Linked DNA regions of Homo sapiens. The protein of the gene in region 1 interacts with the protein of each later gene in a pairwise test. Each region holds a gene or a part of one and is shown on either strand. Other genes may lie near its edges. The genes, in order: JPH1 and HTATIP2.

Evidence for each region.
Region 2: the proteins of JPH1 (region 1) and HTATIP2 interact in binary tests that used the Homo sapiens proteins (3 or more experiments, as listed by UniProt).

What each region holds. Positions count from the first base shown.
Region 1 is NC_000008.11:74,319,755-74,323,674, reverse strand, and holds the start of JPH1 (junctophilin-1), read left to right. Parts: upstream 1-2,134; 5' UTR 2,135-2,387; coding exon 2,388-2,766; intron 2,767-3,920. UniProt on the Homo sapiens protein: Junctophilins contribute to the formation of junctional membrane complexes (JMCs) which link the plasma membrane with the endoplasmic or sarcoplasmic reticulum in excitable cells.
Region 2 is NC_000011.10:20,380,573-20,384,461, forward strand, and holds the end of HTATIP2 (protein HTATIP2), read left to right. Parts: intron 1-1,605; coding exon 1,606-1,667; intron 1,668-2,407; coding exon 2,408-2,633; 3' UTR 2,634-3,210; downstream 3,211-3,889. UniProt on the Homo sapiens protein: Represses translation by preventing reactivation of elongation factor eEF1A. May also inhibit nuclear import by competing with nuclear import substrates for binding to a subset of nuclear transport receptors.

The DNA.
Region 1 (3,920 bases):
CTAGATATCCATTACAGAAGCCAGAAACTTGGTTTGTGCTCTGTGTTCCAGAAAATCCCTCATTTGCATGACAACTAATTAGGAAGAGTAATAAATAAAGAGATAAAGGTTTCCAAAATTTATCCCCTTAAAGAACATATATGGGTCCTAACACACTGGGTGGATCCAAAAAAAAAAAAAAGGCAAAGGGACAAAGACTACTCTATGAGGAAGTCTAGTTTAGAAAGAGACTCCCCCATTCAAAATATTGGCTTGAGCAACCACACTTTTTCTCATATCATACAGAACCTCAAAATATATGGGAATGCATCTTTCTACATTAGCTCCTGATTCTGGTGTATCCCATAACAGGGAAATGGAATTATGGCTCAGCCGCAAAGCCCTGGCCCTCATCTTCCCAGCGGCCTAAATCAATCCCCAGTCCAGGACAAGATGCTTCGAGAGATGCATAATTATTTCAGGCCACTAGGGTAAGCACTATTCCTGGCAACTCTGCGGGCAGTGCCATGGATGAGGGCTTCTAATTCTCTTTGGTGATTTGGTTCTGCATAAACTGAGATTTTTCTTTCAGTCTTTCAGCCAGATAAGTAGGAAAGGTCGGCTCTCGTCCTGAGAGAGAGGCAATCAAGGTCAATTTCAGTTCCTTTTCTGTGCAGTTTAGTCTACTTTTTCCCAGGCTGTCTTCCTGACACCTGTCCTTATATCTATATCTGATTATCAAATACTTAGTGAGAGAACCTTTGGCAGCTTCTGATGCTCGCATAGTCACCCAAAGGCCTCTCAGCCTAAGAAATAGCAGGAATACACTCCAAATCAGTTTCCTTGAGAGGCCAAACTAAGACCCTAGGCTGTGAAAGTGGGAGAAGTTTCTCCCGTGGGTATTTTGAGGGTGAGGTGGAGAATAATGCTTTCTCTCACCAGAGGCAATGCTGATCCAACTTGCCTATTACCAAATCTCTAATTTTTGGTTTGGCACTGCAGCCACAATATACTCAGTTATTACCGAATATAGAAAGAGAAAGGCAAATCTTGTTAGTCCCATTCAGAAGATGGTGAAATGGAGGTTTAAAAGTTTAGAAGAGTTGCCTAAAGTGAATTCGACAAAGCAGTGTTGTAGCTAGAAAGTAGACCAGCTGACATCTGTCCCTGGTTTTGTAGGTCACAGTTTCTTTGCAAGTTTAGAGCAGTGCTTTACTTACCATATTCCTCCTTGCAAACCTCTATTTACTTTCTTAAACAGTGGATACCAGTGGAGAGGTGTGCATTCCAGACACTTATACAATGTACACAGACCGAGCCGTCTACCTGTTGGGCACACAGCTCCAGGCTCAAGAATCTCTAAGGCTGTTAAGAAGCACAAACGAGGCACGAGAGGGGGCAGGCTCTAATGTAAAAGGAATATCCTGTACCACTGCAAAGGCCGATTGAAAACATCCTCTTCATCACTATTAATAAAAAACTAACCAATATATTCTGTGCTTTTTCAAACTGTACTGCTCACCCTCAGTGTCTTCATTAAATAAATGCAAACACGTGTGCTTTGAAACGGGTAGGTGTAAAAGAACACTCTGCACAATTATATCTAGGCTGCCGCAGATTTACATCACATGCATACATATATCTAGGCGATATTAATTCACGATGACAGCTGAGCATGACAAATGCAACAGTACACAAGTTGGAATGCGAAAACAATGCAACTACAAACCCCATGCAGACAAACACGCATACAATGAGTTTTCCCTCAACACACACGTGGCCGCACTCACAGGAGCTTAACCACTTTGAAAAACCCCAAACACAAACACCGGGGGCTCCGGCGCCCGCGAGCGGCCCCCACACAGGCAGCCGCGCCTTCATCTCCAGGCAGGGATTCTCGTGCGTCCCCGGGTACACTCGCCCTCCCACCGGCATCCCACTGCGCGAACACATGCGCGCCAGCCGGTCCCCGCGCGCGCCCGCCTGCCGAGGAAGCGGCGGCTCCCGGGGCTGGGGGCAGGGCCCGGTGGGGCGGGAGCGCCGCGGGGCCGGGCCTCGGCGCCCGGGGAGGGGACGAGGGGCGGGCGCGGGGCGGTGCCCGGCTCACGTGGGCGGGCGGGAGCAGCTGAAGGTCCGCTCGGGAACCTGGGCTGTCCTCTCGCGCGCGGCGCTGGCCCAGGCGGCGGCGGCGAAGGAGGAGGAGGAGGAGGAGGAAGGCGGCGGTGGCGGCGGCAAAAGAGGAGGGAGGACGGGGGCGGCGTCGGACTGGAGCCGAGCGGCAGCGCGAGCTGCCCAGGGCGCTGTCGTGAGCTCGCCCGCCGGGCCCCCACCCCCGAGCTACACCCTGCCGTGCCCAGCACTGCCCGCGTCCGTGCCCCTGCGGGGAGCGCGCCGGGGCTGCCCCCCGAATGACGGGCGGAAGGTTCGACTTCGACGATGGCGGCACCTACTGCGGCGGCTGGGAGGAGGGCAAGGCGCACGGGCATGGCATCTGCACGGGGCCCAAGGGCCAGGGCGAGTACTCGGGCTCCTGGTCGCACGGCTTCGAGGTGGTCGGAGGCTACACCTGGCCCAGCGGCAACACCTACCAGGGCTACTGGGCGCAGGGCAAGCGGCACGGGCTGGGGGTGGAGACGAAGGGCAAGTGGATGTACCGGGGGGAGTGGTCACATGGTTTCAAGGGGCGCTACGGGGTCCGGCAGAGCCTGTGCACCCCCGCTCGCTACGAGGGTACCTGGAGTAACGGGCTGCAAGACGGGTACGGCGTGGAGACCTACGGGGACGGAGGTGAGCGGCGTAACGGGCGGCTCGGCTGCTCCGCGAGCTGGTGCGGTGGGCTCTGCCCCGGCTGCGGGGAAGCGGGGAGGACGCCGGGCGCACGTGTCCGGAAACCCGCCAAAACACCTGGGGGCGCCTCCCACCCCCGCGCCCGCGCCCGCCTTTCCCAGAGAGGGCGCTGGGACCGGACTGGGGCGCGAGGGCTGGATCTGACCCCGTTCTTGGAGCGGGCCGTGTATCCACACTCAGGGGAGCTAGGCGTGAATGTACCTGGCCGGCGCCAGCGCTGCGCTGCCACCGGGAGGGAGCGCCGCCCGGGAGGGTTGGGCTGGAGAGAGGACGCTGTCACTTGAGCCCGTCACATTACGTTCCTGATCCCTCCCTCTCCCGGCCGGGTTTGAAATCGCCACTCCCGTGGAGTTAGAGCGAACACCCTGAGCGGGTGAGGTTGGCGGTCCGTGCTGACCGCTCCCGGGATTGGTTTCACGTGGAGTCGTATTTCGCTTCTGGTCCTCCAGTAGCCTAAAGATAGAAGCCAGAACCCCGTAACTAGGATGTTGGGGAATTGTACCTTATTTGGGGGTGCATTTGGAAACGTCCTAGTTATGGGAGCAGAAAGGCCACCTGATGCAGGTGGAGTTCAGAGTGTGTGAGTTCCTAGTTTTCATTCCGTTTCTTAAAGTATTGGTCTTAAAAGAGTAGCAGTCTTTGCTGACCTGGAGATCTTGGACAAATTACTAGGAAGATATTTTAGAAATGGGTAATGAAGTCTACATTTTAAAGAATACAATTAGCAGGTGTGTTCCTATAGCTGCTAAGTTAGCAGCTACTACTCCTGAGAATGGCAATACTGAAACAATAATTTGCATTATGTGTGACCTAAGCCAGTATTCCTGGCTGTGAACAAAGATCACCTTATTTTAATATTTAACAATATTTGCCAAAGAGATTGTGTATATACCAGGACAGAAGTTCCTCTTTTATTAGGAAAAGTATACATTATTGAAACAGGTGTCAAAACCTGATGAATTTCCTTGTGTAATACGCTGAGAAAGATATTCATGAATAGCTTATGCTTTAGCAAAGTGCATTTCCTGATAAACATAATCATATTTAGTTGAAAAGGGTTGTAGGAGGCGACATCACTTTTTGGAATTAAGCAG
Region 2 (3,889 bases), on another chromosome or scaffold:
GAGGCAGGAGAACGGCATGAACCCGGGAGGCGGAGCTTGCAGTGAGCTGAGATTGCGCCACTGCACTCCAGCCTGGGCGACAGAGTGAGACTCCATCTCAAAAAAAAAAAAAAAAAAAAGCTAAGAAATGTGTGTACACATAAAATCTTGTGTATGACTGTTCATAGCAGCATTATTTATAATGGCCAAAGAGTGGGAACAACCTAGATAGCCATCGACTGATGAATAGATGAATAAAATGTGATATATTCATGCAATAGAATATTATTCAGCTATAAAAAGAAATGATACATACTACAACATGGGTGAACCTTGAAAATATTATGCTAAGTGTGAGGAGACAGTCACAAAAGACCACGAATTATATGATTTCATTTATATGAAATGTCCAGAATAGGCAAATCTATAGAGATAGAAGGTACATTAGTGGTTGACTAGGTCCCCAGAGGGTAGGGTACGAGGAGTGACTGCTAATGATATGGGATTTCTTTTCAGGGTGATGAAATATTTTAAAACTTAGATCGTGATGAAGGTTACAGAGTTCTGTGTATATACTAAAAACCACCTATTAAAAAAAAAAGAATGGCCAAGCGCGGTGGCTCTCGCCTGTAATCCCAGCACTTTGGGAGGCTGAGGCGGGTGGATCACTTGAGGTCAGGAGTTCGAGACCAGCCTGGTCAACATGGTGACAACCCCGTCACTACTAAAAATACAAAAATTAGCCAGGCATAATGGCGGATGCCTGTAATCCCAGCTACTTGGGAGGCCGAGGCAGGAGAATTGCTTGAACCTGGGAGGTGGAAGTTGCAGTGAGCCAAGATCATGCCCTTGCACTTCAGCCTAGGTGACATGGTGAGACTCTATCACACACAAAAAATACATAAATAAATAAATAATTAAAATTAAAAAATTTTTAAAAAGAAAAAGATATTTAAAAATAGCTACTTAAATGTCTGTGATGAGACAGGTTAAGTGCCAATTGAGTGGTACACACAGGCCAAGAAGGAGGCGTGCATGACCGTGTGGTAGTTCACAGGCCTTTGGAAGTGCCTGTGGGCTGAGCTCCTCAGGCATTTTGTTTCCAGAGATGCCTGCCATGAAAATGCATGCTTTATTTAACAAATTAGATTTAAAGCATCATCTAGATGTAATCTGTCTTAAAATTTTGTGAGGTTTAAGAAGTGAGTAATATAGTGGGTCTATGGTTTTCTGACCCACTGGAACTACCTATAAACCAAAAAAACGTTAGTGTCTGCTAGCATGCAACATGAATTCTGGACTAAATAGAGGATATTCTTTTATGATTGTACTAACGTATGACTTACCCTCTCTGAATCTGTTTTAATATCAATAAAGTGAGAGGACTGACTATGCAGCCATTCACTCATTTAGTGGATCTTTTAAATGAAAGACTACACATCAGGATTAAATGATCTCTTCCTTAATTTCCCAGACTCCTTGGAACCTAAAATTCTAGATAAGGATATTTTGAGTATTGAGATCTGCAAAAGCAGATTATCTCAAAACCACAAATTATTCTCTCTTAAACTTCACACAGGTGAGCTGGTCGCGATTAAATACTGAAAATGTGTTTTTTCTTAATAGGGAGAAGTAGAAGCCAAGGTTGAAGAATTAAAATTTGATCGTTACTCTGTATTTAGGCCTGGGTAAGTATAATATTTATACTGAATGAGAGTATGCCACTGATGGTTAATCCCTAGATACTAATTTTTCATTTGGAAAGGCTGACAGCTGAAATATCTAAGATATGAAAGACATTGGCTAGAGGTAGATTGCTTCTCTGAAGGACACACCTTTTTGCTTAGAAAGAAAGGGTAGATGGTGGGGCCTGCTTCAGAATAGTCTGGAACTTCCTGGACAGCATTTGCTGCCTTCTTAAATCCTCTTCATGTGCCAAATAAAACCTTACGTCTACTGTATTAGTCTGCTTGGGTTGCCATAACAGAATACCACACAGATTGGGTGTCTTAAACAACAGAAATTTTTTTTCACGCAGTCTGGAGATTGGAAGTCCAAGATCAAGGTGCCCTCAGGGTTGGTGTCCGGTGAGGCCTCTTTTCCTGGCTGGCAGACAGACCACCTTCTGGCAGTGTCCTCACATGGCCTTTCTTCTTAGTGTATGCAGACAGAGAGAGACCTCTGATGTCTCTTCCTCTTATGAGGACCCCAGTCCCATCACACTAGTCCTATTCCATCCTTAAGACCTCATTAAACTTAATTACTTCCCTTAATGCCTTATCTTCAAATATAGACACCTTGGGGATTAGGGCTTCAACATTAGAATATTGAGGGGATACAGTTTTGTCCGTAATGCCCACTGTGGTCTCAGTGCAATTTACCACCTCTTCCTCTGCTTTTCTTTCTTTTTTTTTTTTTTTTATTTTAGAGTTCTGTTATGTGATAGGCAAGAATCTCGCCCAGGTGAATGGCTGGTTAGAAAGTTCTTTGGCTCCTTACCAGACTCTTGGGCCAGTGGGCATTCTGTGCCTGTGGTGACCGTGGTTAGAGCAATGCTGAACAATGTGGTGAGACCAAGAGACAAGCAGATGGAACTGCTGGAGAACAAGGCCATCCATGACCTGGGGAAAGCGCATGGCTCTCTCAAGCCATGACCACATTGGAGAAATGGTTTTTATTGTCAACCTTAACACCCATCACCAAATCGGTAATTTCAGGGTCTAAAAAAAGTCAGCATGTTTTAACTTTGTTGTTTTACTATCCTCAGGCATCCATTCCAATCAAGAAATGATGGTGCTCTGCATCAGTGGTTCAGAGCCTGGTTATACATATAGATCACTCAGGGAGCTTTGGAAAAATAAAGATTTGTCAGCCCTATCTCAAACTTGAATCAAAATTTCTGGGGTGTGGGCACAATAATCTGTAATTTTCTTTGTTTATACTTCCCCTGATGCCACTGGTTCCGATGCCACTGGCTGGGGGGCCTGCTTTGAAATGCTTGTCTGCAGAGTCACAGCAGCCATGAAAACCTTATGACCGTGCAAATGAGCTCTGCTCTAAAATTGTTGACATTCATGTCTCTGAGTTACAAAAGTGCTAATTCACTACATGTAATTGTGTAAGTAAACATTGTGCCTTTACTACTTCTTTATGTAATAGAAGTTATATACCTAAGCTTATATAATACATGGGGAGGATTAAATAAAGGAATAAAGATGAATGGACAACTCCTGGGTGCCTCTTAGATTGCTTGAAAATGCCCATGTAGTGTGATATGCAGCATTTCAGCCTATGGGGTGATATAATAGCAGCTAATATTTACCAAATGCTTGCTAAGTACCAGTCTTTACATGTGTTATCTGTGCTTTAACCCTCTTATAAACAATCCTTATAAAGTGATACTATCATGATCTTCATGTCTTAGATGGGGAAATGAGGCTCACTGTGGTTAAGTGCCTTGCTCAAGAGTCCAAATCTGAAGAACTGAAGCAAAGAAATGGCAGAGTCAGGATTCTAACCCAGGTCTGCCTGATCCCATAGATCCCATATATCGTGTTTTTAAGCACCCTGCAAAAGCATTCTGTTCCCGTATATTTCCAGGTAGTTCCAGTTGATTGTTACTACATGTTGTGGATGAACAAAATCGAAATATTTGGGTTTCTCCTTTGTTCTAGTGATTAATTACTAAATGTTCACATAGCCAGTAAAATTCTATGCCACCAAACTTTAAAGTGCTCATGCTGCTGCACTTTAAAAATTAAGGCAAAGGAAGATGCAGAAGGAAGGGTCAAAGCCAAGAGGAACATACATTGCTAATTTCCATCATAGAACAAAAGATGTTAATGTAACTTGTCTTAACGTCTGCACCAGGGAAGCAAAGTGATTCGAGGGACTCAGTCAATTCTTCCAA